4 linked regions of the Homo sapiens genome follow. The protein of the gene in region 1 binds, or shares a complex with, the protein of each later gene. Each region holds a gene or a part of one and is shown in the gene's direction. Other genes may lie near its edges. The genes, in order: DRC1, DRC7, DRC8 and DRC3.

Region 1 (7,644 bases):
GGGTGTTTAGCACAGTCAGTGGACTAAGGTAGGTGCTTGGTTTCTACTAATATCTAGTTCTCTGTCTTTTTTCTTTGAACTTTTTTTCTAAACCATGTGACACAGCTCATGACTTCCATGCCTCCTCCCCTCTCTTTCCTCCTTCATGCCTTTTGAGGCAGTATATGAAGATGATGGTAAGGCAGTTCCCCAAATTAAAAATTGGTAAGATTGCCTTCTCAGAATCTAATTAGTAAAATTCACACAAATCGAAAGATAGAAATAACCTAAGAAGTTGTCTAAATGATGAATTTGTCAGCATCCTCACATTCCAATTAAGGTGAGTTAGTGTAAACTTATTGGATGTAGAATTAAGTGTGACTAGACTTAGTAAGATATAAAATCAAATCTGTTCATCCTTCTTGTTTTGAAAAAAGGCTATAAAAGCTGAAGGTGGATGCCCACATACCTTCCTTAGCAAGGGAAGCCCATATAGCCAGATTCCTCAAAAACCTACTCAGGGATGAGGAACTCGACTGTGCTTGTGGCAGATTATCCCCATTGTGAGCCTCTGAACCATGGCAGTCAGTCCTACATATCAAGGGACTTCCCAGTCAGAGTTTGATCCTCTTTGTGACCAGCACATCTCTGTGGGCTGATCTACACGAAAGGCACGAAAATGCACACTGCCCTGTGTGATGGTTGTACTTGCTTGCTAAAAGAAATTCTATGTTTTTCTTTTGTGAGCTTGTTAGTATGAGCCAGCCAGGCTTTTGTATGAGCTTTTTTTTTTTTTTTTTTTTTTTTTTTTTTTTTTTGTGAGATGGAGTCTTGCTGTGTCACCCAGGCTAGAGCGCAATCTCTGCTCACTGCAACCTCTGCCTCCCGGGTTCAAGCGATTCTCCTGCCTCAGCCTCCTGAGTAGCTGGAGTTACAGGCATGCACCACCACACCCAGCTAATTTTTGTGTTTTTAGTAGAGATGGGGTTTCACCATGTTGGTCAGGCTGGTCTCGAACTTGACCTCGTGATCCACCCACCTTGGCCTCCCAAAGTGCTGGGATTATAGACATGAGCCACCGTGCCCGGCCTGTATGAGCTTATTAGTATGAACCAGCATTGCCTACCAGTTGAGGACCACACTCTAGATGCTGGTCAGTCATCAAGGTGAATGGACATCACCTGCCTCCCTTCCCCAAGTCCCTCTCATCTATAACAGCCCTACTTGCCTGCCTCACTCTCTTGGGGGTCTCCTGTTATTTCTCTTACAAAAACATGAATAAATAAGCTTTATGTTTTATTGAGTCAAAAGGGATTTATCCTCATTGTAAACATTTTTTTTTAATCTTCAGGGAATCTGAAAATCACCCATAAGCCCACCCCTGAGGGATATTGACTACTTTGTGGTATTCCCCCTGTTTTTCTTGTGTACTACTGTCTACATTTCAAATCAAACTCGGCTTAGGCTCTATATTGTGCTGCCTGCCTCTTCCCTTTCTCATGTAATGTATCTTGGATGTCTTTCTAGGTCACCTTTATTCTTGTGTTAGAGAATCCCATGATTCTTTTATCGGTTCCCCTATTGATGGATTTTGTCATATCTAGTTTTTTAATATTACAAGTAACTGGAATGGACATACAGATACATCTATATACGTTTCTTTCAAAAAAAGTTTGTTGAGCACTTACTACATATCAAATATTGTGCTAGGTGCTATGTATAAAATACCGAATAAAACTGATATAGTTGTGACCCCAATGAGCTATAGCTAGATCCATGATCTCCTTGTGATGATCTTTAAACTAGAATTGCCTAGTGAATGGATATGCTAATTTATTTTTGTGTGTATACAAATAAATATGTTTTTATCTAGTTTTTTCAGTTTTTAACAATTTTCTAAATTTAACTCACTTATGAACTATTTACAAAGGCATGGAAAATTAAGCATGCATTTTCCCATTTATATTTAATCATAATTCATTACATGTCTTCTGACTTTCTTGTTTAGTGGTTTTTCTTTGTCTCTTTGTTTCATTCCTTTGACCTCTACAACCACAGTTGTCTGCCCCATGAAAATATTTCTTCCTCTCTCTGTCCTTTGTTCAGTTTAAAAAATTTTTAGTATTTAAAAAAATTCGGCAGGCCGGGCGGAGTGGCTCATGCCTGTAATCCTGGCACTTTGGGAGGCCGAGGCGGGTGGATCGCCTGAGGTCAGGAGTCTGAGATCACCCTGGCCAACATGGTAAAACCCTGTCTCTACTAAAAATACAATAAACATTAGCTGGGCATGGTGGCACACGCCTGTAGTCCCAGCTACTTGGGAAGTTGAGGAAGGAGGATCGCTCGAACCCAGGAGGTAGAGGTTGCAGTGAGCCAAGACTATGCCACTGCACTCCAGCCTGGGCAATTGAGCAAGACGCTGTCTCAAAAAAAAAAAAAAAAAAAAAAAGGAAATAATAGTTATATATGTTTATGGGGTACATAGTAATATTTCAATCCATATAATGTATAGTGATCAGGTCTGGTAATTAGCATGCCTATCAGCTCAAACATTTGTCATTTCTTTGTGTTGGGAATGCTCAATATCCTCGTTGCTATTTGAAACTATGTTATTGACTATAGTCACCCTCCAGTGGTGCAGAACACTAGAACCTGTCATTTTGTATCCTTTAACAAATCTCTCCCTATTCCACCCTTTACCCTAGTATGCCAATTTAAACAGTTAATAGATTTTGGCAAACTGTCCTCCTAGGAGGTCCCTTTCCAGCGGTGAGTGAAAGTGTTTCCCACACCAGTGAAAAAGGTTTATTACATAATTGAGGCTGCCTGTGGGAGCAAAGAGGGCCTCCCAGCTGGTCAGAAAATGGCTAGAGAGAGCCAGGAAAGGAGACAAGCTTGGGGCTTTTATTGTGGTTAAGGGGTGAGGCTGGGAGGAGGGTATCCTGTGCACGCAGATGAAATCTGCCAGCACCAAAAAGAGCACCTAGGCTTTTTTTAACAGCTTGCCCAGATGTGGAGAAGAAAGAGGGAGTGCTGCGTAAAAGCTGCCAGCAGCCAAATGTCAGCAGCAAAAAATGGAGTCAGATTTCTTATATAAAAAGATGTTGGAAGTGGTATCAGAACAGTGCAGGGCCAAGTATCTCACTGGTCACTCTTCATGGGTTTGTATGGTACCTTTGCTCTCACTTACCTCTTGTGCAACAGCTGATTCCCCCTGACTTTCTCATGGTATCCCACTCCCAGGCATAGACATGCGCATGCACACATGCTTGTTTCTGTCCTTACGGATAGTGGAAACATGAACCAGGACCTGGACGAGTTTTTGGTCAGAGCTGTATCATGGCTCCTAGGAGAGTTTAATACTTTAGGTTTCAACCAAAGGAGACAGAGATCTGGCAGAAGGCCCTGAAGCCTAGAAGCAAGTACCCCCGCTCCTACCACCACCACCTAGGCAGGTGTGAGACAAGGATCCAGGCAGCTGCTGTTAGACTCTATAGCTGTTGGATGGTTTTGGCATTCCTAAACCTCTCTACTGCTTGCAAACGTGGAAGAACTGATTTTAAAAACCCACTCCATTTGCCTCTGGGCAGTTCTTACTCACAAAGGACGGGTCGTCTTGGCCGCACAGTTGTCTGTGGGTTGCATCATTTAACAGCTGAGAAAATGCTCCTCAAGAAGTTGTGACTTGCCCAAGGTGGCAGGGCAGGGCTAGGACTAGTACTCACCCTTTCTCACTGCTCATCCAGTGCCCTTAATTCCCCACGGGCTAATGGGACAGAACCCTGTTAAATGGTATCCAGTTTTTGTTTGGTTGGTTGGTTGGGTTTTTTTGAGACAGAGTCTTGCTCTATTGCTCAGGATGGAGTGCAGTGGCTCGATCTCGGCTCACTGCAACATCCACCTCCCAGATTCAAGCGATTCTCCTGCCTCAGCTTCCCGAGTAGCTGGGATTATGGGTGCCCACCACCATACCCAGCTAATTTTTGTATTTTTAGTAGAGACGGGGTTTCATCATGTTCACCAGGCTGGTCTCAAACTCCTGACCTCAAGTGATCTGTCCACCTCGGCCTCCCAAAGTGTTGGGAGGCTGAGGCATGAGCCAGCGCGCCAGGTTTTAATTCTCAATGAGAACACTATTTTTGTTGACAATGAGACGCCCAGAAGATAGCGCCTTTCTGGGGACAGTTGAGAATTTAATAGTGCTTCCGCATTTCTAACTTTTATCCCTCCCCCCTCCCACGGACTGTTTTCCTCTATTCCACTTTTCCTCTTTCATAAGTATTTGATTGCAGGTTGGTATCCTGTATCCAAGCACAGCGCTTGGCATCGAGTAGGCGCTCAATTTTATTTGGTGAATATGAGTTGGAGGAATATTTGATGAATGAATGGAAGATGAATTAATCATCAGGGTCAGCAAGTGATGAACCACAACTTGGTCCAGTTCTTTAGTCCTCTAGTCTCCTGGTGAGACTCCACAGCTCCGCTAACACGACCGGGCCTTCGTGGGCCTGACAACAGACCTGACATCCCACGGGCGGGAGAGGCGTCAGCCCGAGGCTGGGATGCTCGGCCGGAACGGCGGCTGGCGGCAGGCTGGGCCCAGGGAGCTGCGCGCGCAACCACTCGGGCTGTGGCTCCGGTGACCGCTCTCCCTGGCAACGGTTTGTTCCTAGCAACCAGCCTGAGGTCTGGAGGTGGTGCGGAGGGAGCCGCCTAGGGACCAGGGACTCCTGCCATGAATCCGCCGGGGTCCCTAGAGGCCCTGGACCCGAACGTGGACGAGCACTTGTCCACCCAGATTCTCGCGCCCTCGGTCCACTCCGACAACTCTCAGGAGCGCATCCAGGCCCGGCGCCTCCGCATCGCTGCGCGCTTAGAAGCCCGGAGGCGGTGAGCGCGGGGGCGGGCGGGGCGGGATCCGCGCCGCAGGAGCCGGAGAAGGGCTGGTTTCCTGATGAAATAGAAACATTTCTTCGGGAAGGTTCAGGCAGAGTATGGGAAAGTAAAACGCTGGGCCGGTGCCGTGGCGCGCGCCTGTCATCCCAGCACTTAGGGAGGCCGAGGCGGGCCGATCACTGGAGCCCAGGAGTTGGAGATGGTCAACCTGGGCAGCATAGAGAGACCCCATCTCTATAAAACATCAAACAATTAATCGGGCGTGGTGGCGTTCGACTGTGGTCTGCACATGGCATCTTTTCCACTACGGACACCTCCAAACCACAGGGTCTGCTGGATCATGTGGCCCAAGTAGCCTGGCTGCTTACACTGTGGCCTGGGTCCTTTCTTGTTCCAGGCACCACTCAAAGCTGGCAGCTTTTTGTGTCAGCCTGAATAATATTCCTAAGTGCGGGATGTATTGTCTCTAGGACCCAAAGTGGCCTAAGAGGCATTGAGTTTCCTTCTCTGTAGAGGATGCAAAATGCAGTAGATTTGTTTTTTACTTGATAGGCTATCCCAGCATCCCACTGACCACTGGACCCCTACAAACTTGAATGACATGGCAGTCCCTGGGCCTTCATAGGGTTGATTGCCCACCGTCTGGAGCACACATGTCTTACCAAGCCCTGCAGTGTGTTTCCATCACTCGCTCACCCTGGCTGATTGCTGCGGGGCCATCAGTGGAATGCAGGGGCCGGCAAACCCTTTCAGTAAAGGGCCAAATAGTAAATATTTTAGGCTTTTCGGATCATATGGCCTCTTTCCTAGCTGCTCAATTGCCATTGTATTGCAAAAGCAGCCACAGGCAAGACATAAACAAATGGGCATGACTGTGTTCCAATAAAGCTTTATTTATGGACACTGAAATTTGAATTTCATATACTGTTCATGTATCACAAAATAGCCTTCTTTTGATAAAAAATAATAATAAACTTTATTTTTTAGAGCAGTTTTTAGGACCACAGCAAAACTGATCAAAAAGTATAGCATTCGCATATACTCCCTGCCCCCACACATGCACAGCTACTGTCAACATCCTGCACTGGAGGGCACATTTGTAACAATATATGAACCTTGGCGCATCGTTATCACTTGAACTCCATTGTTTACCTTAGGGTTTCTTTTTGGTGTTGTACATCCTATGGGTTTGGATAAATTTATGGTGACACGAGCCCACCAGTATAGTATTATACCAAATATTTTTACTGCCCTAAAAATCCCCTGTGCTCTGCTTATTCATCCTAGTCTTTTTTTAACCATTTATTTATTAACCATTTAGAATTGTAAAAATCATTTAAAATTGTAAAAACCATTTAAAATTGTAAAAAATCGTAGCTCATGCCTGTAATCCCAGCACTTTGGGAGGCCAAGGCAGGAGGATCACCTGAGGTCAGGAGTTCAAGACCAGCCTGGCCAACATGGCGAAACCCTGTCTGTACTAAAAATACAAAAATTAGCCAGGTGTGGTGGCAGGCACCTGTAATCTCAGCTACTTGGGAGGCTGAGGCAGGAGAATTGCTCGAACCTGGGAGGCAGAGGTTGCAGTGAGCTGAGATAGCGCCACTGCACTCCAGCCTGGGTGACAAGCACAAAACTCCATCTCAAAAAAAAAAAAAAAAAAAATTGGGCCGGGCGCAGTGGCTCATGCCTGTAATCCCAAAACTTTGGGAGGCTGAGGCGGGCGGGATCACGAGGTCAGGAGTTTGAGACCAGCCTGACCGACATGGTGAAACCCTGTCTCTATTAAAAATACAAAAATTAGCCAGGCATGGTGGCGCGCGCCTGTAATCCCAGCTACTCAGGAGACTGAGGCAGGAGAATCGCTTGAACCCAGGAGGCGGAGGTTGCAGTGAGCTGAGATCGTGCCATTGCACTCCAGCCTGGGCGACAGAGCGAGACTCTGTCTCAAAAAAAAAAAATTGTAAAAATCATTATTTGCCTGGAAGCCATACAAAAACAGGTGGTGGACTGGATCTGTCCCACAGGCCATAGTTTGCCAGTGCTGAAGTAATGGATCATTGTGATGTTCTCTGGGATATCCAGATGTCCCTGATATATTCAGAATATATTATGACAGAGATCAGGAGAACTACCATGGTCCTGTGAGTGTGACCGACTTGTGAGTGTATATCATTGTCTGTTCCATGTAAATGTGAACTTCCTGATTATTTTTCCTGATTGAGGTAGAAAAGCATGCATTTGGCCCAATCAGTAGCCACACATACTGTGCCTGAGGCTGTACAAATTTGCTCTAGTGAAGCTTACCACACTTGCATAGATGCTGTGTTCAGGAGTGCTACCTGTGGAGCTTCTGGTAGTTGACAGTCACTTTCTAGGATCCAGTTTCTGCAGGTGCCAGACCCATGAATTAAAAGGAGATTCAATAGGGATCACCATTCCTGCATCGTTGAGATACTTCAGGGTGGCACTAATCCCCACCAACACCCCTGGGTGGCAATATTTTTTTTTGTGTACTGAGGTGCAGTTTCAGAGATGTCCTTTTGGCCTTCCCCACTATGGTAGCTCTATTTATAGGCCAAGGAGTGGAGTTTTTCAAACTTCTAAGTATGTAGGTCCCAATTATACTTTTGGCCATTAGAGACATGATTGCTGGCTGAGTCCACAGACTTGGCAGACCCTCTGTAAGTAGGACTTTGCCTCCCCTGTGTCCTCACTCTAAGTGGGTGGGAGCATGCTTTGGGTCTCTGGGTGTCAATGGTAACTCAG
Region 2 (7,034 bases), on another chromosome or scaffold:
CATAGTGGGACCCTGTCTCTACAAGAAAATTTAAAAATTAGCTGGCTGTGGTGGCATGCACCTGTTGTCCCAGCTACTTGGGAGGCTGAGGCAGGAGGATCACTTGAGACTGGGAGGCCGAAGCTGCAGTGAGCCATGTTCATGCCACTGCATTCCAGCCTGCGCAACCCCACCCCACCACAAAAAATAAAAATAAAAATAAATTTAGAAAAAGAAAGTTGCAGAGCGGGGTCATAACACCCCGCTCTGCAACCCCCTGGGAGTCCCAGAGCTGGCTGTTCTCAGTTCTATCCCAAGTAGCCATCATGAGCCCCACATGCTGCCAGGCCTTTCTTGTCTGTTCTGTCAGTTCCTCTGAATGTCGTTGGCCAGGGCCTTACCCACATCACCAGCCTCCCTTCTCTGAATTCAGTTTCAGCCTTTATGTGAAATGGAGGCAGAAGGATCATAGTTGTATTCATAGTAATTCTAATAAGTGCATTCGTCTGGCATCACAAAGCACCACAGATGCGGTTGCTTAAATGACAGAAATTAATTTTCTTACAGTTCTGGAGGCTGGAAGTCTGAGATCAAGGTGTGGACAGGGTTGGTTCCTTCTGAGCCCCCTGTCCTCGGCTTGTAGATGGCTGTCTTCTCCCTGTCTTCACATTGTCTTCCCTCTGTACAAATCTATGTCCTAATCTGTTCTTATAAGGACACCAGTCATTTTTCTTTTTATTTTTTTTTGAGACAGGGTCTCCTCTGTTGCCCAGGCTGGAGTGCAGTGGCACGATCATAGCTCACTGCAGCCTCGAACTCCTGGGCTCAAATGATCCTTCCACTTTGGCCTCTGGAGTAGCTGGGACTACAGACACACACCACCATACCCAGCTAATTTTTGTTTTTCAGAGAGACATGGTCTTGCTATGTTACCTAGGCTGGTCTCGAACTCCTGGGCTCAAGAGATCCCCTTGCCTTGGCCTCCCAAAGTGTTGGTATTACAGGCATGAGCCACCATGCCCAACCAACACCAGTCATATTGGGTTAGGGCCCACTCTAATGAACTCATTTTACCTTAATCACCTCTCTAAAGACCCTGTCTCTAAAAACAATCATTCAAACAGTAAGTGATCAAGACAACAACAACAACAAAGAAAAAATAAGAAAAATAAATAAAACAAATACAGTCACTTTCAGGGCTTAAAACTTCAACCTATGAATTTTAGGGGGATGCCATTCAGCCCGTAGCAAAAGGTAGCACTCACATGGTCCTTACTAAGCACTGGGATCCATTGTATCTACTTAACCTGAAGTAACTCATTTAAATCCCCACAGCCACCTGGTGAGGTGGGCACTGGTATTACCACCTGTGATTAATATTATCCCATTTTACCGATGGGAAGACTCACACACAGAGAGGTTAAGTCACTTACCCAAAGCGATACAGCTGGTAAGTGACAGAGCTGGGATTTGAACCTACACAGTCTGGCTCCACAGTCTGGGTTCTCAATGGTAACTCTGTTCTACCTCCTGGGGCTGCTTGATGTGATGTGCTTGGCACAGCAGTGTAGACCATCTCAAAAGGGTGCTAAATGTTCTCAGCATCCTCATCTCCAGAGACTGGGGACATCTTGTGTGCAGTAAATCCAGGCATAGGTGCCCCCTGCTGGCCTTGGGGCATGGACCAGCCAGGGCCTGAGAGCCCAGCCCTGCAGGCAGCCGGCTGAGCACCCACATGGCTAATAATCAAACAGTTCCAGTCACAGAGTCCTGGTCCACCCTGGCCCAAGAGCCCTCATTACAGCAAAGACGGACAGAGGGCAGCCCAAAGAGTCAGAACCCAGTCATGGACCCCCAGGAAAAACCAGACCCCGGGTGACAGCCCACCCACCTGACCATCTTAGAGATTTTTGACAATACTAACTGCTGACTGCTCACTCATTTTTGTCCCCTGCAAAATGTCACAATTAGATAAACAGTTGTCAGAGGTATGAGCAATGTTTGTGGAAAAAAGGTTTTAAGTCGAGAAAGTCTTATCCAAGTTTCTGTGATTATCTAGTTTGAGGACCATTTATCTAGATCGGGCCTTATTTCACAAATGGGGAAATTAAGGCTCAGAGAGGAAATAATAATAGGCCGGGCATGGTGGCTCATGCCTGTAATCCCAGCACTATGGGAGGCCAAGGTGGGCATATCATTTGAGGTCAGGAGTTCAAGACCAGCCTGGGCAACACGGTGAGACACCACCCTCCTCCCCCGGCCGTCTCTACTAAAAATACAAAAATCAACTGGGTGTGGTAGGTGCATGCCTGTAATCCCAGCTACTCAGGAGGCTGAGGCAGGAGAATCACTTGAACCTGGGAGACGGAGGTTTCAGTGAGCCAAGATTCACTGCACTCCAGCCTGGGCAACAGAACAAGACTCCATCTCAAATGATAATAATAATAATAATGTCAGCCAATCAGAGCCCCAAGGCCTTTACAGACATTATATCATTTAATCCTCCTAAAAGGTCCAGTTTACAGTTAAGAAAACTAAGGCTTAGAGCAGTTAAAGGACTTGCCCAGGACCCCTTAGCTGGTCTTGGAGAGAGGGTGGGGCTTGGGTACCCTGACTCCAGAAACACCTCTCTAATCACGAAGGGCCTGCAGCCAGGGCAGGGGGTGCTGCTGTCCTAAGCCAGGCAAGTATAGGGAAGGGCTCCCTGCCCAGAGTCGACTCCTCCTTTTCCACATCATGGGTCGTGCTCATGACCTCCAGTTCCCCTGCGGAAGCCAACGGACCACCTTGGCTTGGCTCTGCAGGCAGAGACAGAGCTTTGACCATAACTTCTGCTTCAACACCCTGACCAGCACCACCTCCCCCACCCCCTTCTCTCCCATCAGGGCAAGGAGGATGAGGATAAGAGCTTCGACATGCCCCACTCGTGGGTGGAGCAGATTGAGATCTCCCCGGAAGGTATTTTCTATTTGTGTATTCACTTATCCTCTCCAGATCCAGTTCCTGGGCCTCCAGAGAGGTCTGCAACAGCGAGGCAGGGGGACACAGCAGGGAATGCCATGCCCCACATTTCCACCCTTCTCACCTTCAGCTGCACCCTCCCTCCCTCCCTCCCCCCTTCCTGCCACACGCACTCAGCTCTGACCCCGAGGGCCTGACGACCAGTCTGGCACACGGGGCGATGCAGTTCAGTGAGCATGTGTGGGATGATGGCGTGTAGGTGACAGCAAGGCCTGGAAACCCAGCCCATTCCCCTCTCACACTCTTCTACCCAGAGGAGGCCATGGGCAGTGCCCAGATGGTGCGGGGGGTCTCAGGACCGGAGAGGGGCAGGTAGAGAAGGCAGGAGGGCAGGGACTGTCATGCTCCATGTCAATATCTGCTGGTGCCCACCTAGGGAGCACCCAGACCTATGGGGAGGGCATGGGCCACTTCAACAGGGTGGGAAGTGCCAGAGAGGCTGTCATGGGAACCCAGAGGGGGGCGCACCCAGCCCAGCACTGGGGCTAGGGCCTGGGGATGGGTGAGCAGAAAGGGGTACCAGAAGTAGGCTAGGGGTCACCTGGGTGAAGTTTGGAAGGATCTGAAGGAGTCAGTCCAACAAGGGGAGGAGGGGATGACGGTGTTTCTGGCAGAGACCTGTACAAGCAAAGGCCTGGCAATGTGAGAGTGTGGTTGGCTGCAGGGCAGACCCTCTGATGGGGCTCAAATCCCATTCTTGGGTGGATCTGTGCTTCTGCCTGGCCTGAGAACCCCTCTAGGGCTGGAGCCACCCCTGGTGATTATTCTCCTCGGCCTCCCTGGATCAGGCTTGGGGCTGGAGGAGTTCAGTACACAGAGAACGGGCAGTGGATGGATGAATGGCTGGGCGGGGCTGGCCCTCCCTTCCCCCAAACTAGCAAGAAGAGACCACAGCTGACTGTGTCCACAGCATTTGAGACCCGCTGCCCGAACGGGAAGAAGGTGATTCAGTACAAGAGGGCAAAGCTGGAGAAGTGGGCCCCGTACCTCAATAGCAATGGCCTTGTGAGCCGCCTCACCACCTATGAGGACTTGCAGTGTAAGGGGGATTGCTCTGGACATGGGTCCAGGCCAGCCCAGGGGCGGGGGCGGCTTCTACTCTCTCTGGGGTCATTGCTGGCCTCTGTGTGCCTGGAATAAGGGGGGTTGAAGGCTAGGGGAGCTGGCCTGGCTGCGGCAAGTGTCCATCGGCCCCACAGGTACCAATATTTTGGAGATAAAGGAGTGGTACCAGAACCGGGAAGACATGCTGGAGCTGAAACACATAAACAAGACCACAGACCTGAAGACAGACTACTTCAAGCCTGGCCACCCCCAGGCTCTGCGCGGTGCGTGGCTCCCCTTTCCTGGGCCACCCAGGAGCCTGGGGTAGAGGCCTCACACACCCTGTGGCAGGTGGTATGTGGTGGCAGGAACCAGCATACATATTATACATGGGTTCTTGGGCAGCAAGCAGTAGAAGCTGCCCTGCCTCCCTCAGCAAACCCGATGTGTGGGAGGTCAGGGAAAGCTCAGAAATTCTAAGGAAATATAACAAATGCTCCTCCAGGAAAGCTAAAGGGGGCGCCACATACCCGTTCTGTGGTTGGAATCAGGCCGGAACCTCACCATGGGGTCACACGGTGGAGGCCACATTTAAAGGAGGCAGTGCCGGACACAGGGGCTCACACCTGTAATCCAAGCGCTTTGGGAGGCCAACATGGGCAGTTGAGCCCAGGGGTTCAAGACCAGCCTGGGCTATATGGTGAAACCCCATCTCTACAAAAAATATAAAAATTAGCCAGGCATGGTGGCATGTGCTTGTAATCCCAGCTACTCAGGAGACTAAGGCAGGAGAATCACTTGAACCCAGGAGGTCGAGGCTGCAGTGAGCCGAGATTATGCCACTGCACTCCAGCCTGGGTGACAGATAGAGATCCTGTCTCAAGAAAAAAAAAAAAATCCTGACCAAGAAATTTACAAAAGAAAAGCATAGGAGTAATATACATTTTTTTTAAATGATCAACCTCATTTGGAAGTTGATAATAAAAAAAAAGAAACTAATAAGGTCCCTAACCAATAAAGGACCATCTTATAACCCCCATGTTGGCAAAGATGAAAAAAATGGTCCTACTGGGTATGAACAAGTATGGGAGCAACAGTCACTCTGTGTCACTGTTGATGGGACAGCAGATTGGAACTTTTCTGGAGGACAGTTGGGCAAAATATTGATAATGACCATAAAACGTGTACGCTTTTGGCTGGGCACAGTGGCGCACACCTATAATCACAGCACTTTGGGTGGATCACCTGAGGTCAGGAGTTTGAGACCAGCCTGGCCAACATGGTGAAACCCCGTTTCTACTAAAAATACAAAAATTAGCCAGGTGTGGTGGCAGGTGCCTGTAGTCCCAGTTACTTGGGAGGCTGAGACAGGAGAGTCACTTGAACCCAGGTGGCGGAGACTGCGGTGAGCTGAGATCACACCACTGCACTCCAGCCTGGGTGACAGAGCGAGGCTGTGTCTCAAAAAAAAAAAAAAAAAAAAAGTACACTTTTGGGCCCAGCAATTCCACTGCTGAGAATTTATTCTTAGCAAATAATGGACAAGAACAAAAAATGCACGATGCAGATGTTCATCATGGTGTTGGTAATAATCAGAAAAAGTTGTACGCAACCTAAACACCCAGCAATAGGGGACTGGTTCATAGCTAACCTCATCCATAATGTGGGTCTGTCTTCTCCCTGGGCCTGGGGTTGGGCGACCAAGCCAGCAGCCATACTTCCTAGTGCTTATGAAGCTGTCTCCTCCCAACTCCCGCTCCCCACCCAGTGCACTCGTACAAGTCCATGCAACCTGAGATGGACCGTGTCATTGAGTTTTATGAAACGGCCCGTGTGGATGGCCTGATGAAGCGGGAGGAGACACCCAGGACAATGACAGAGTACTATCAAGGACGCCCAGACTTCCTCTCCTACCGCCATGCCAGCTTCGGACCCCGAGTCAAGAAGCTCACTCTGAGCAGTGCAGAGTCAAACCCCCGGCCCATTGTGGTAAGAGCTCGCGGGGGCTGGGGACAGGTCGCCCTCCTTCTCTGGCAGCTGATGTCACCTCTGAATGGTGAGAGCCCTGGCTCTGGGGTGGCATTAAGGCCTGAGACATATCCAAGGGCACCAATGATGAACCAAGCATTTTACCAAATGTATTAGTCTGTTCTCATGCTGCTTTGAAGAAATACCTGAGACTGGGTAATTTATAAAGAAAAGAAGTTTCCTTGACTCACAGTTCTGCATGGCTGGGGAGCCCTTAGGAAACTTAAAATCATGGCAGAAGGGTCCTTTTCACCTTCTGCCTAGTGAAAAGGGTCCTTTCCACCTTCTGCCTAGTGAAAAGGGTCCTTTTCACTAGAATCAGGGCAGCAGGAGAGAGAATAAGTGCTGAGCAAAGGGGAAGCTGCTTATAAAACCATCAGATCGTGGGAGAACTCACTCACTATCACGAGAATAGCATGGGGGAAACCACCTCCATGATTCAATTATCTCCACCTGGTCCCGCCCTTGACCTATGGGGATTACAGTTCAAGGTGAGATTTTGGTGGGGGGACACGAAACTAAACCATATCACCAAATGCGCCATCCTGGGGTTGTCTGGTGTCAGACTGTGCCCTCAGCCATGGGGCCAAGGATGTGTTACTTCCTTATTGTTATACAAAAATACACACTCATGACTAAACATTTGGAAAATATGTAAAAATGTAGAGAAAAGTAAACATATCTCAGAATGGCATCTCTCATATGTTGCCACGGATTATAGGTTTGGTTTTGAGAGTTTTTTCTAATGTAATTGAGATCGGGACCCAGGGATTAGAGTCCCTGTATTACCCACTTAACATGAAATTGTGCATTTTCCCCTTCATGTCATTACAAATTAGTTGGCAACTGTGTGTAATGGCAGCATGCCAAAGAAGCTCTTTCTAGCAGTAAGGGATGTCTAGCAATGGAGTAGGCTGCCTGGAGAGGTGGTGAGCTCCCCATCTCTTGAGGTAGGCAAGCAG
Region 3 (3,690 bases), on another chromosome or scaffold:
CAAAGCTAGAGCTCTCTGGTTCACAGACTGGGTCCTGAATGACTCAGAGTTGCTAATCACTTGAGGCAGAATGAAAAGCGCAAGTGATTTTGAGTAGGGAAGACTAAGACTGCATCTACACGCACAACTGGTTTGACCATTCCAGCTTCATCCACCTTAAGGCGGAATACAGAGAGTGAGGGTCAGAATGGCAAGGCCGTCACAGCTGCCACCCAAGAACTCTGACGCCATTGTTAAAATTACCTTCGGGATTAATTCTGATGGGGATGTTACGACTTTCAAAGCATCAGCTTCTTCATCCTGAGGATTAGTCTAAAGAAAGTAAATCCTAGGTTATATATCAGGCAACATGAATTTAGTCAAAATGGCCCAAACAGTTAGATTTTCCTACTGTTGTGTGCCTACTATATGTTTAATATTTAGTAAGTGTAGTAAGGTATAATGATACTTAAATCTACTTCCTCTCTCAAGGATATTACAATCTTATTTGGGAAATAAAACTAACATAAAATAATTCACAATACAAGACAATAGAAAGCTAAATATCAGAAGATCAACTAGGGCTGGCCCAGCCTGGAAAACTTGGTTTGGGAAGACTTAAAGAGAAAATAGGTTTTTTGAGATGGTAGAATGTATATGGTTAAATTGTTGAGGGCAAAGGTAAACTCTTGTGCATTATAATTCTGTCACACATGGTAGATATCAACAAATGTTTGTTGAATGAATGAGTGAATGAGTAGATGATGAAGACCAGGTGAAGGGGCTAATGAGAGGGAGACATTATCGATGTGTAAAACAGTCTGAACAAAAATGGGGAGGTAGGAATGAACATGCTATTTCAGAGAGAAAATAAGCCTAGCTGGCCCAGAGGGTAATGTTGGCAAACAGCAGGAAATTAACTTCAGTAGACTTACTGGGACTAAATTGTGGAGTCCCAGGCTCAGGAGTTTGGAATTCATCCTGTGGGCGATGGAGAAGTATTACAGGCTTTTGAGCAGATGACTCACATGGTGTGTGAGTGATTGTGAGAAGGTTTTTCTGGTGCTGGTCGGTTTGTTAGATGCATAAGAAAGAGGTTGGACTAGGGAGGCCACTTAGAAGGTTATTTCAGCATTTTGAGGGCACCCAAATAAGGGCCTGACCTGGCAGTGGGAATGGCAATGGGAAGAAGGGATTGGTACAATAGGACTGTCTGTGGCAGGATCCATGGGTCATGATGAGTAACAGAGTGTAGGCGACAAAGCTGAGAGCTGAATCCAAAGTACCACCAAGGCTTTGCCCTCGATGGCGAGTATGATGGTAATGAGACTGACTCAAACAGAAAGGTCAGAACAGACCGCAGTGTATACAGAGACAGTGCGACCACGTGGTTTACTTGGAGGTGCTGTGTGATAATTTCGAAAATGGTATGTTTACAGAGAGTTCATGGTACTTAAAGATCAACTATTGAGTATCTCAGCGGACTAAGCATAGGACAGGTATGGTCAAATAAGAATACATATGTTTTCAATTATTCACTCAGCAAGTATTATTACAAACCTTCCACATATATGAACCAATATGTTTGGAAGTAATATGTAAGATGTAAATCTATACAAATCTAAGTTACGATTTAATATAACAGACCCATCAGCTAAGTGTAATAGCAGTTGACTAGTTTGGTAAAATAGGAGCTTAAGAATTGCTGCTTTGAGAGTCTCAGAATTCTACAAATTGTTTTTAAGTACATTTATGCTATATAACAATATGGATTCAAGCTACTTGCACATTCATCCTAATATCCACAAAGTATCAAACACACTAGTTTGAGAATATGCATTCCTACAGCCCTGGATGTCATATGATAAAATAAATCACACTGAATCAAGTTCCTACAAGATAGAAGTCCCTAAGTGTCCAGGAATGTGTATTGCATCAGACAGTGTTTAGCAGCCGGGAAGATCTCAGAACAATTTTTTAAACAAACACTTGCATGTTGCTGCTTCTATGCCAGGTACTGTTCTAAGTCCCATTCAAATCATAACACGTTTCATTCTCATGACAACCCTATGTGACAGGTGGTGTCGTTATCACCCCCATTCTAGAGACAGGTAAGCTAAGGTGGGGAGCTGTGAAGTGACTTGCTCAAGATCTCAGAGCTCGTGAGAGGCAGCCAGCATGTGGATCCAAACTTGTGCTTTAACCACTCAGTTATCTTCCTTCCATCTTTCATCAAATACTGGGGCTTCAAGTTAATCCTCTGGTAATTTCAAAAGTTTTAATCTAAATAAATAACCTTGTTCATGATGTCTGTATGTCTTCCTACTGTTTTGCCTGAAATGACGTGTTCTAGAGGTTGCTTGATCTATGACATCTGCAGGCTAAAAGAAGTCCAGAATCTACCAGGGTGTACAATAGCCTTGTCTTTGAACCTCTGGACTGTCGTGATGTCCTGGCTCTACAGCTCCAGGGAGCGTAACTAGTGGCACTGTGGGAGCTTGTGGGGCTCCATGGCTATTAAGCTGGCTAGTGGAAAGAGAAAAAAATCAGATGATCCTAAATGATAAATTTTCCTTTTTGTCTCTCTGAGGTGAGCCTTTTTCTCAAGAGGAAATGGAAGAAATGTTGTCTGCTGCAATTGATCCAGAATCAAATTCAATTAATTACAAGGACTATATAACAATGATGGTGATAGATGAAAATTAAATGTTCTAAAGATAATTTCTGATTGAAAGAACAATTTTAGAAATTGCTTGTTCTTGTTAATTTCACATCTTATCTTAGGATTCCTATATGTGATATTTAATACCTTGTGACATAACTATTTTAAGACACTTTGTTTTTAAAGATGATCGTAACACTTTAAACCAAATTTAGTATGTCTAGCCTTACAGAATGATAAATTACTATTTATTTAAAAACTATTCTTAAAACATTTTAACATTAGAATGGATTGTTGTTTATTTTCTACAATAAAACTCAGGTCACCTTCGAATTAATTAAGCTGACAAAATGAAAATGACTTAATTACCCAAGGTTTGGCATGTAAAGATCTTAAGAGGGGGCAGAACGAACCACTCGAAAACGAGTAGCAGTGTAATGAAGGCTTCTTTTTTAAACAATAACAAATGCTTCATCAATCTGAGTGTGGAAGGTGATTTATCAAAATAAATATTACTAATTTATTTTTTTATGAGTGCCAATTACAAATATCATTTGGGATAATAATAACTTAGTGTAAACATTTATATTTGCTGATCCAGCATGTCACCATTTATGGAGTAGCTAAAGGAGTTGAGATCATTGGAACTAGAGAAAAGAAGGTTGAGTGGAAGTTGATAGTGTAAGGTAGTGGCAATTCTCCCTTTGTCTTTAGAATTCTCACCCACTCCGCATATCTGTCATGGGAGCATTGTCCTGAATACTGAGTAAGAATACTGAGAAATGTTATGGTGTGCAAATGTACAGCTCCTGAAAGAGCAGAATGAAGCACAAGCAGTCACAATGGAAAAATATATGGCATGGCCACTGCCTCCTCCTTGCAATTCTCTCCGATCTTGGCATCTTATATGGCAACTATATGGCAACTTACAAGCAAAGGGGAAGATAAAGTAAAGGGAAGTGAACAATTTTCCAAACTTAGATATTCTGTTATAACAAGACACACACACACACACACACACACACACACACACGGGTCTCTATTTGAAG
Region 4 (7,034 bases), on another chromosome or scaffold:
TTCACTGTGATAGCCAGGATGGTCTCAATCTCCTGACCTCATGATCCACCCACCTCGGCCTCCCAAAGTGCTGGGATTACAGGCATAAGCCACTGCTCCCGGCCTTTAAGTATCTTTAACTCAAAATAATCACTATGCCAAAGCGGCATATTTTGGTGTGAAATGCTCTGAACCCCATGAAAGCCATGGCTCCTTCTACCCTGCCTACCAGCCTCTAATAAAAACCTGAGCTTACAGGGAGTGAGCACTTGCTAGTGCTCAAAGAGCCTCACATGTGTTCTCTCACTTGTGTCAAGGGTAGGGGCTATCAATCGCACTTTACAGACCAGGAAACTGAGGCATGGAGAGGGTAGGTAGCTTCTACACGCTTTCAGAGCCAGCAAATGGCAAAGCTGAGACTTGCACTTGGGCAGGCTGACTCGAGTCCAAATTCTTACCCACAAAACCAAATTGCCACCTGCCATTATCTAATTACACTTAGTTGTTGATTCCTAAAGTGCAGTCTATTGTTTCTAGAGTTTAAGTGCCATTCGAGAGGAGTTGGAACTGCCCAACATTGAGAAGATGATCCTAGAATGCAGTGCTGACATCAGTGAGTTGTTCGATGCGCTCATGACGCTGGAGATGCAGCTGGTGGAGCAGCTGGAGGTAAGGCTGGGCCCTGGGCACAAGTGCCAGAATCTGGCGATGCAGCTGCACATCCATAGGTGAACTGTAGCCTTCATGGGCACGCCTCTGCTGGAAACGTCCAGCACGACTCAGCGTGGCAGGCTGTAGCTTTCTTGCTCATCAGTCCTGTTTGCTTTTATTACATTTTAATCATTTACATTGGAAGTGATTCTTGTGGAAAATGAGAGGTGAGCTCATTCTTCTGAAATGGTCCCCCTATCCTGGAAGTCAGTGGGGAGAGGTTTTTGATTAGACCCCTGGAGCTATCCGGGTACTCTAAAGGCAAAGCGCACCCCCACTTGGGGACCAAACAAAGACCCCTCCGCATTGCAGCCTGCAGTTGCCGCTTCTCAGGTGACGTGAGGAGGCTGCAACTCAGCACTAAGTAGTGAAAATGAAAAGCGCCGCTGTCTGAAATTCATTAGCAGCCAGAGTATGTGTTACAAGGCAGCGGAGGCTGGGAGTCTGAAGTGGTGTGATGAATTGAACCTCATCGGATGCTGCTGTGGCTGGGCCAAGTGATAGCACCTAATCAATTCCTCACACGTCAAGTGACACCTCAGACATGGGATAGATTTCCCCATCACATCACAGGGCAGGTGCTCCCTCCCTGCTGGAGAGCACAGGCACTGCAGAAGCAGCGCACAGTGCCAGGGGCGAGTGAGGCAGCAGCTCCCAGCCTTTTCAGGCACGGAGATTGCCTTTCAACATCCAAACATTTCCCAGAACCCATGTGCCATCCTACTTGTATTACTGGTGGCCAGAAAGCCACAAGCGCAATCATGCTTTTCAATGACCCTATTTTTATTCACGAGAACAGCACATACATGTGTTTGAAAATTATGTGAGGTGCTCACTCTGCAGACAGTACTCACATTCCTATAGATTCCACCCCTGCCCACCTTGCAGCCCCTGGAGTCTATAGCAGATGGGAGTGGGGCACTCCGAGAGTGGCAGGCCTGGAGATCACATCTTCCATTGTTCCTTCAATCAACACTAACTCCCATTTGGGCCTTAGGTGCCTTGCTAAGCACCACAAAACAGCAACTAACTGAAAGAGATCTGGAGTGCCAGCCCGCTCCTACTGAGGGCCTCCTCTCTGTCAGGCACCTTGCAAAGCATTTTGTGTGAAGTGACTCATTTAACCTCACCACAACGCCACAACGCAGGGATTATGCAGGTAACCTATTTCCCAGATGAGGAAGATAAGGCCCAAGGAGGTGAAATGCCTTTCCCAGAGTTACACAGAGTGCTGGAGCTGGGAATACTGACCCAGGCAGTCTAGCTCTTAACAGCTCACTCCACTGTTTCCCTGGAGGTGATGCACAGATGTCACTGGGAAACCCAAAGGAGAGGGGGTTGGCTGTGTGTGTGTGTGTTGGGCAGGCAGGTAAGGGGAGTAAGACCAGGACAAGTGTTCCTGGCAAAGTTCCGGTGACAGCATTAAACATTCAGATGGTGAGGGAGTTAATATGGTTGGAGAACAACAACTTTAGAGAGAGCAGAGGGGTCAGTTCACAACCATCTGCTCAGGAGGGTCAAGATGGGTGGTCTTTATGCTGAAGGTCTGTGATTAGAGGAGCTGGTTGCTAAATTTTGAGGAGTACCTTTTGCTCTGTGCTGGACATCTAAATATGCATGTTAACTGTGTTCTTTAACATTTCCAGGAGACTATAAACATGTTTGAAAGGAACATTGTTGACATGGTAGGACTGTTTATCGAAAATGTCCAAAGCCTATATCCTTTCTGTGATGACCTTCCCCATGGGGAGGTGCTACAGAGCCCCTGGGCTTGTCCCGGCCTCTGGACAAAAGAATGTTCCACAGGGTCTGAGGAGGTTTCCCGACCCTCAGAACAATGATGGCCTGGTTAGAGCTGTGGTTTGGATGCCCAGAGGGACAACATCCAAACTGTTTGCAGTAGGCTCCCAGCATGATTGTTCTCATATGAGTGATGTTCACTAGGAAATGACGCCCCCTGTGTTGCAGGCAAGCACACTCTGGGGTTGAGGCAACCCCCACGTGGAAGACACTATAAGGAGTACATCAGGTGAAATGTTAGGGTGAGGAGCCAACATCGGAGCATGGCCAACCCTTCTTCCACCCGAACTCAGGGCACTCCACATGGGGCAAACTGCTGTGCTCCAGCTAGCAGCAGCCCTGTGGTCCTGCCCTCCTGGGGCTCACAGTCCCTCAGGGAGACAAGTTGTAGAGGCAACAAGTGGTGCCAAATGCACAGGGTGAGAAGCAGTTAACCCAGAGGCCAGGAGCCTCCATGCAGGAGGGAGAGAAGAGTGTGATGGCAGGGGCCGAGGGTCCGTCCGAGGTGTGGGGCAGGGGCAGGGAGTCGAGGAAGGCCCAGGGTTCGGAGCTTGTGAGTGGACGGTGCTGCCAGCCAGAATTTCCGAGCTCGCCTTGGGCCCTTAAAGTCTGTCTCCCGCCGTCTGAGAGCATCAGGGACGCGCCGGGCCTGCTCCTCCCGGGCCTTTGCTTAACTCGGGGCTGCACGATGGCTCAGTGCCGGGACCTGGAGAATCACCACCACGAGAAGCTCCTGGAGATCTCTATCAGCACCCTGGAGAAGATTGTCGAGGGCGACCTGGACGAGGACCTGCCTAACGACCTGCGCGCGGTAGGCGGGGCGGGCTGCTCGGAGCCTGACAGATGTGGTCCAGCCCAGCTCTGTGGCTGGACTGAGGCTCTGTGAGTAAGCCTGACAACCTCCCAGAGCCTCAGTGTTCTCATCTGCAAAAGGGCACACTAACCTGCTTTACAGGGTTGCTGGCAGATAAAATAGGCTAACAAAGCACCTGGTGGGGCACCCAGTGGGGCCCAGTTAAAGAGGAGCTCATGATAATTAGATGGTTTCAACTTTCCAACAGGGTCGTTTCCAAAAGTTCAATTATGTGGAGGCTTCTGGCACTTTCTAAGAGAAGCAGTTACAGGTAGAGGTTGAAGTCTGAGATTTCCCCTGGAGGTCTTCTTAACCTTAGAGTCTGTATAATGAGTACTGTGGGGGTGTTGGAACCACCATTTCTGATCCTGCACAATGCCATCCGGTTTGCACCAGCACATCCACTGATGAATGGTCACAAAATCAGCAGGGTCGGCCTGAGGAACCTGGCTCCATCCCTGGGGTCTGCACGCTAAGAAGGCTCTCCCGGATGTCTGCGCTGGGTCCCGCGGCAGCATGTCTATGTCTCTGGAAGGAGTGTGGGCATCAAGGGCCCAGACAGAGATACTATGTTGTCAGGGCCCAGACAGAGATACTATGTTGTCAGGGCCTGCTTTAGTGCATGCATCATTCACTCCACTGCCAGTTTCTCAGCTTCTCTCTGTCGCGACATCACCACCAAGGCAAGCCACCATCGTCCTTGGCCTGGACTGCTTGCCTCTTTACTGTCCTCTTACAGTCCGTCCTCCATGTGGCAGCCAGAGGGACCCTTGAAAACCCAAACCCTATCACTGCACACTTTTACACAACACCTTCTAGTGGCTTTCATGACCCCTAGCGTCAGCTCCTCCCCATAGTCCCCCAGACCCTCGGGCTGACCCTGCCCATCTGGGCGATTCCCACCCCCAGAACCCTCACTCCTGATGCTCAGCGGCAGCCTCTGAGCTCTTCCCCAGTCACCCAGGCTTGCTCCTTTCAGTTGATATTCCACCTGGCAGACACGCTCTTCCTAGGTCCCCATGTGCCTGGCTTGTCCTTGTCATTCAGATTTCAGCTTGACTATCAGCTCTTGGGAGAGGCCTTTCTTCATCAACTTCCAGAAAAACCACTGTCTCTGTATCACATGCCCCATTTATCAGGTCAGGTCAGAGCCTCATCATAGTTTCAAACTACCTGGCTGATGTGTATTTGCTGCTGATGTGACTATTCACACTACATGTAAGCTCAGGAGGGAGGACGGGGATGGCCTTTTCACCACCATGTACCCCCTCAGTACCAGCAACAGTGTACAACATGCAGCACAGATGCCAGGCATCATCTGCAGAATGAGTGTGAGAGCGTATGCTCACCAAGCCTCCACTCTGCCAGATATGGGGCTAAGTCTTGCAGACACACAGGACCAGCAGTCCCTGACTTCCACAGCCTCTGTCCTGGGGCCCAGACAGACACCCAACATAGCAGTGTGGTGATAGGGTCACCGTGACACCAGCCTTCCCTCCCTAAGCTGATAACTGCAGCTAATTGCTATTGACCAGACACAGGAAAACACCACCTTCCCTGTGAAGTAAGGCTGTCCCTGAGTGCCCAGTTTGGAATTCCCCAGACAGACCATCTTGGGGTGGGTGGAGATCCCTCCCAGCACAGCTCCCATGTCTGTGACACCCAGAAGGCACAGGACTGAAACGTGCCCAATTTCTAATGACTAGGACACACAGAAAAAGATGAATCCAGAGGCCAACAGCAGAGAAGCAGGCTGGGCTGGCATTTTCAGTGGCCAGCCCTCCCTCCAGCCCAGCTGGCTCTGCCTGGTGCCAGCTGACCACCATTCCTGTGGCTTTACGCCTGCAGTTATAGGAAGAGACTCCCCAGGACCTTATACCATGGCCTAAGTCTCCTTCCATCTAAGCAACAAAAAATGTGACCTACCCTTCTCAGGAGGAAAAAGTATGCTCTGACTATATGAGTAATACCAACATCACTTTGAAAGGCTGAGGTGGAAGGATTGCTTCAGCCCTGGAATTTGAGACCAGCCTGGGTAACATAGCGAGACCCCCTCTCTACAAATAATAATTTAAAAATTAGGTGATGCGCACCTGGTGGTCCCAGCTACTTGGGAGACTGAGGTTGGAGGATTACTTGAGCCTGGGAAGTCAAGGTGAGCCATGACTGTGCCACTGCACTCCAGTCTGGGTGACAGAGCAAGACCCTGTCTCAAAAAAATAAAATAAAATAAAGGAATAATACATCGCTGACATTTGACTGGGGGCCTCCTGAGGGCCAGCCCTCTGGGAAGCACTGAACTCATGTTTGCTTTTTTAATCTTCACATCAACACGGAAAAGTAGGTACTATTATGGTTCCCTTTTACAGATGAGGAAACTGAGGCACAGAGATGAAGGTAACCTGCCCAAGGACACACAGCTTATAACAGATAGGGTTGTGATTTGAACCAGGCAGTTTGATTGAAAGCCTTTGACAAAATGTCTACTGTATAGCAAGATGGGGATGTTCAGAGGAGGGACTAGGGCTGTGGGTGAAAAAAACCTGGCTTCTGTTACCTAATTATCAAGGAGCATATCTTGATAAGTCACCCTGATGAGGTTATCTCTAAAACTCCACTCATGCAGTTGAGTGACTGTTATCAGCTCATGACCTACATGGGGCCAATCTGTCCCATATCTATTTTCAAGTCCTTCCAGCTTTGAGAGGAAAAGCAGAACGTACATGCTGAGGAGAGAGCCTGGAGCTGGCACTGAGGGAGGGCATCTGAGTGGTGCTGGCAGCCACAGCTGCCCATTTAGGGAGGTGGGGAGGACAGAGGTGCTGCCTGGCTGCTCTGAACATCCACGCGGGTATCCGGCTGCGAGGGCAGGGTGAGTGCTCAGGCCCAGGGAGGATGCAAGTCCCCAGGGTCTGCTCAAGTGGCAGTGGGTCTGACCCAAGCCAGCAGTCTCTGGACAGGGAGACTGCCACAAGATTCTGGCTGGCACCAGGAGACTCCGCGTTGGCTTGTCCCTGCCCATCAAGCCAAGCTGCTCATTTGTCTGTGGCAGAGGAGAATGCAGGGTTGTCAGGTGCCCTTTGTGGGTATGATGGAATGATCTGATCCCACATGCCATGGGGCAGCAAGTCCTCAAGCCACTAGCAGTGCGGTGGTCCTGGGGAGGGGCACCAGCTGTTGCCTTCTCAAAAGTCACTTTGTTGCTACCCAAAGCAACCTACAGATTCAATGCAATCCCCATCAAAACACCAATGACATTCTTCGCAGAAATAGAAAAAAAATCCTACAATTTAGAATCACAAAAGACCTTGAAGAGCCAAAGCCATCCTGAGCAAAAAGAACAACGCTGGAGGCATCACATTACCAGACTTCAAAATATACTACAAAGTTGTAGTAACCAAAACAGCATGGTACTGGCATAAAACAGACACACATTTCTCCAAGAAAACACCAAATGGTAGATGACACTATGGCAGCAGGAGGGCCCAGAAGCCTGGAATGGGAAACCATGGAAGCTTTGTCAGCAGCTTCTGGGGCTAGGATTGTGGCCATAGTCAGGGCAGGGGCTGAGGCTGCGGGGAGCTCTCAGAGGCAAGGTCCAGGCAAAGGAGTGGATGCCCATCACCAAGCTGGGCTGCCTGGTCAAGGACATGAAGATCAAGTCCCTGGAAGAGATCTATCTCTTCTCCCC

What was found.
Region 2: DRC1 (region 1) and DRC7 share a complex: the UniProt entries of both Homo sapiens proteins name them as parts of the nexin-dynein regulatory complex.
Region 3: DRC1 (region 1) and DRC8 share a complex: the UniProt entries of both Homo sapiens proteins name them as parts of the nexin-dynein regulatory complex.
Region 4: DRC1 (region 1) and DRC3 share a complex: the UniProt entries of both Homo sapiens proteins name them as parts of the nexin-dynein regulatory complex.

The regions. Positions count from the first base shown.
Region 1 is NC_000002.12:26,397,276-26,404,919, forward strand, and holds the start of DRC1 (dynein regulatory complex protein 1), read left to right. Parts: upstream 1-4,644; 5' UTR 4,645-4,714; coding exon 4,715-4,869; intron 4,870-7,644. UniProt on the Homo sapiens protein: Component of the nexin-dynein regulatory complex (N-DRC) a key regulator of ciliary/flagellar motility which maintains the alignment and integrity of the distal axoneme and regulates microtubule sliding in motile axonemes.
Region 2 is NC_000016.10:57,718,803-57,725,836, forward strand, and holds part of DRC7 (dynein regulatory complex subunit 7), read left to right. Parts: intron 1-2,864; coding exon 2,865-2,937; intron 2,938-3,910; coding exon 3,911-4,039; intron 4,040-4,199; coding exon 4,200-4,328; intron 4,329-5,812; coding exon 5,813-6,033; intron 6,034-7,034. UniProt on the Homo sapiens protein: Component of the nexin-dynein regulatory complex (N-DRC) a key regulator of ciliary/flagellar motility which maintains the alignment and integrity of the distal axoneme and regulates microtubule sliding in motile axonemes.
Region 3 is NC_000001.11:245,084,676-245,088,365, forward strand, and holds the end of DRC8 (dynein regulatory complex protein 8), read left to right. Parts: exon of another isoform or gene 1-2,084; coding exon of another isoform or gene 2,085-2,119; exon of another isoform or gene 2,120-2,569; coding exon 2,570-2,685; 3' UTR 2,686-3,162; downstream 3,163-3,690. UniProt on the Homo sapiens protein: Component of the nexin-dynein regulatory complex (N-DRC), a key regulator of ciliary/flagellar motility which maintains the alignment and integrity of the distal axoneme and regulates microtubule sliding in motile axonemes.
Region 4 is NC_000017.11:18,003,847-18,010,880, forward strand, and holds part of DRC3 (dynein regulatory complex subunit 3), read left to right. Parts: intron 1-516; coding exon 517-648; exon of another isoform or gene 649-658; intron 659-2,336; coding exon 2,337-2,407; intron 2,408-3,177; coding exon 3,178-3,301; intron 3,302-3,551; coding exon of another isoform or gene 3,552-3,599; exon of another isoform or gene 3,600-4,088; intron 4,089-7,034. UniProt on the Homo sapiens protein: Component of the nexin-dynein regulatory complex (N-DRC) a key regulator of ciliary/flagellar motility which maintains the alignment and integrity of the distal axoneme and regulates microtubule sliding in motile axonemes.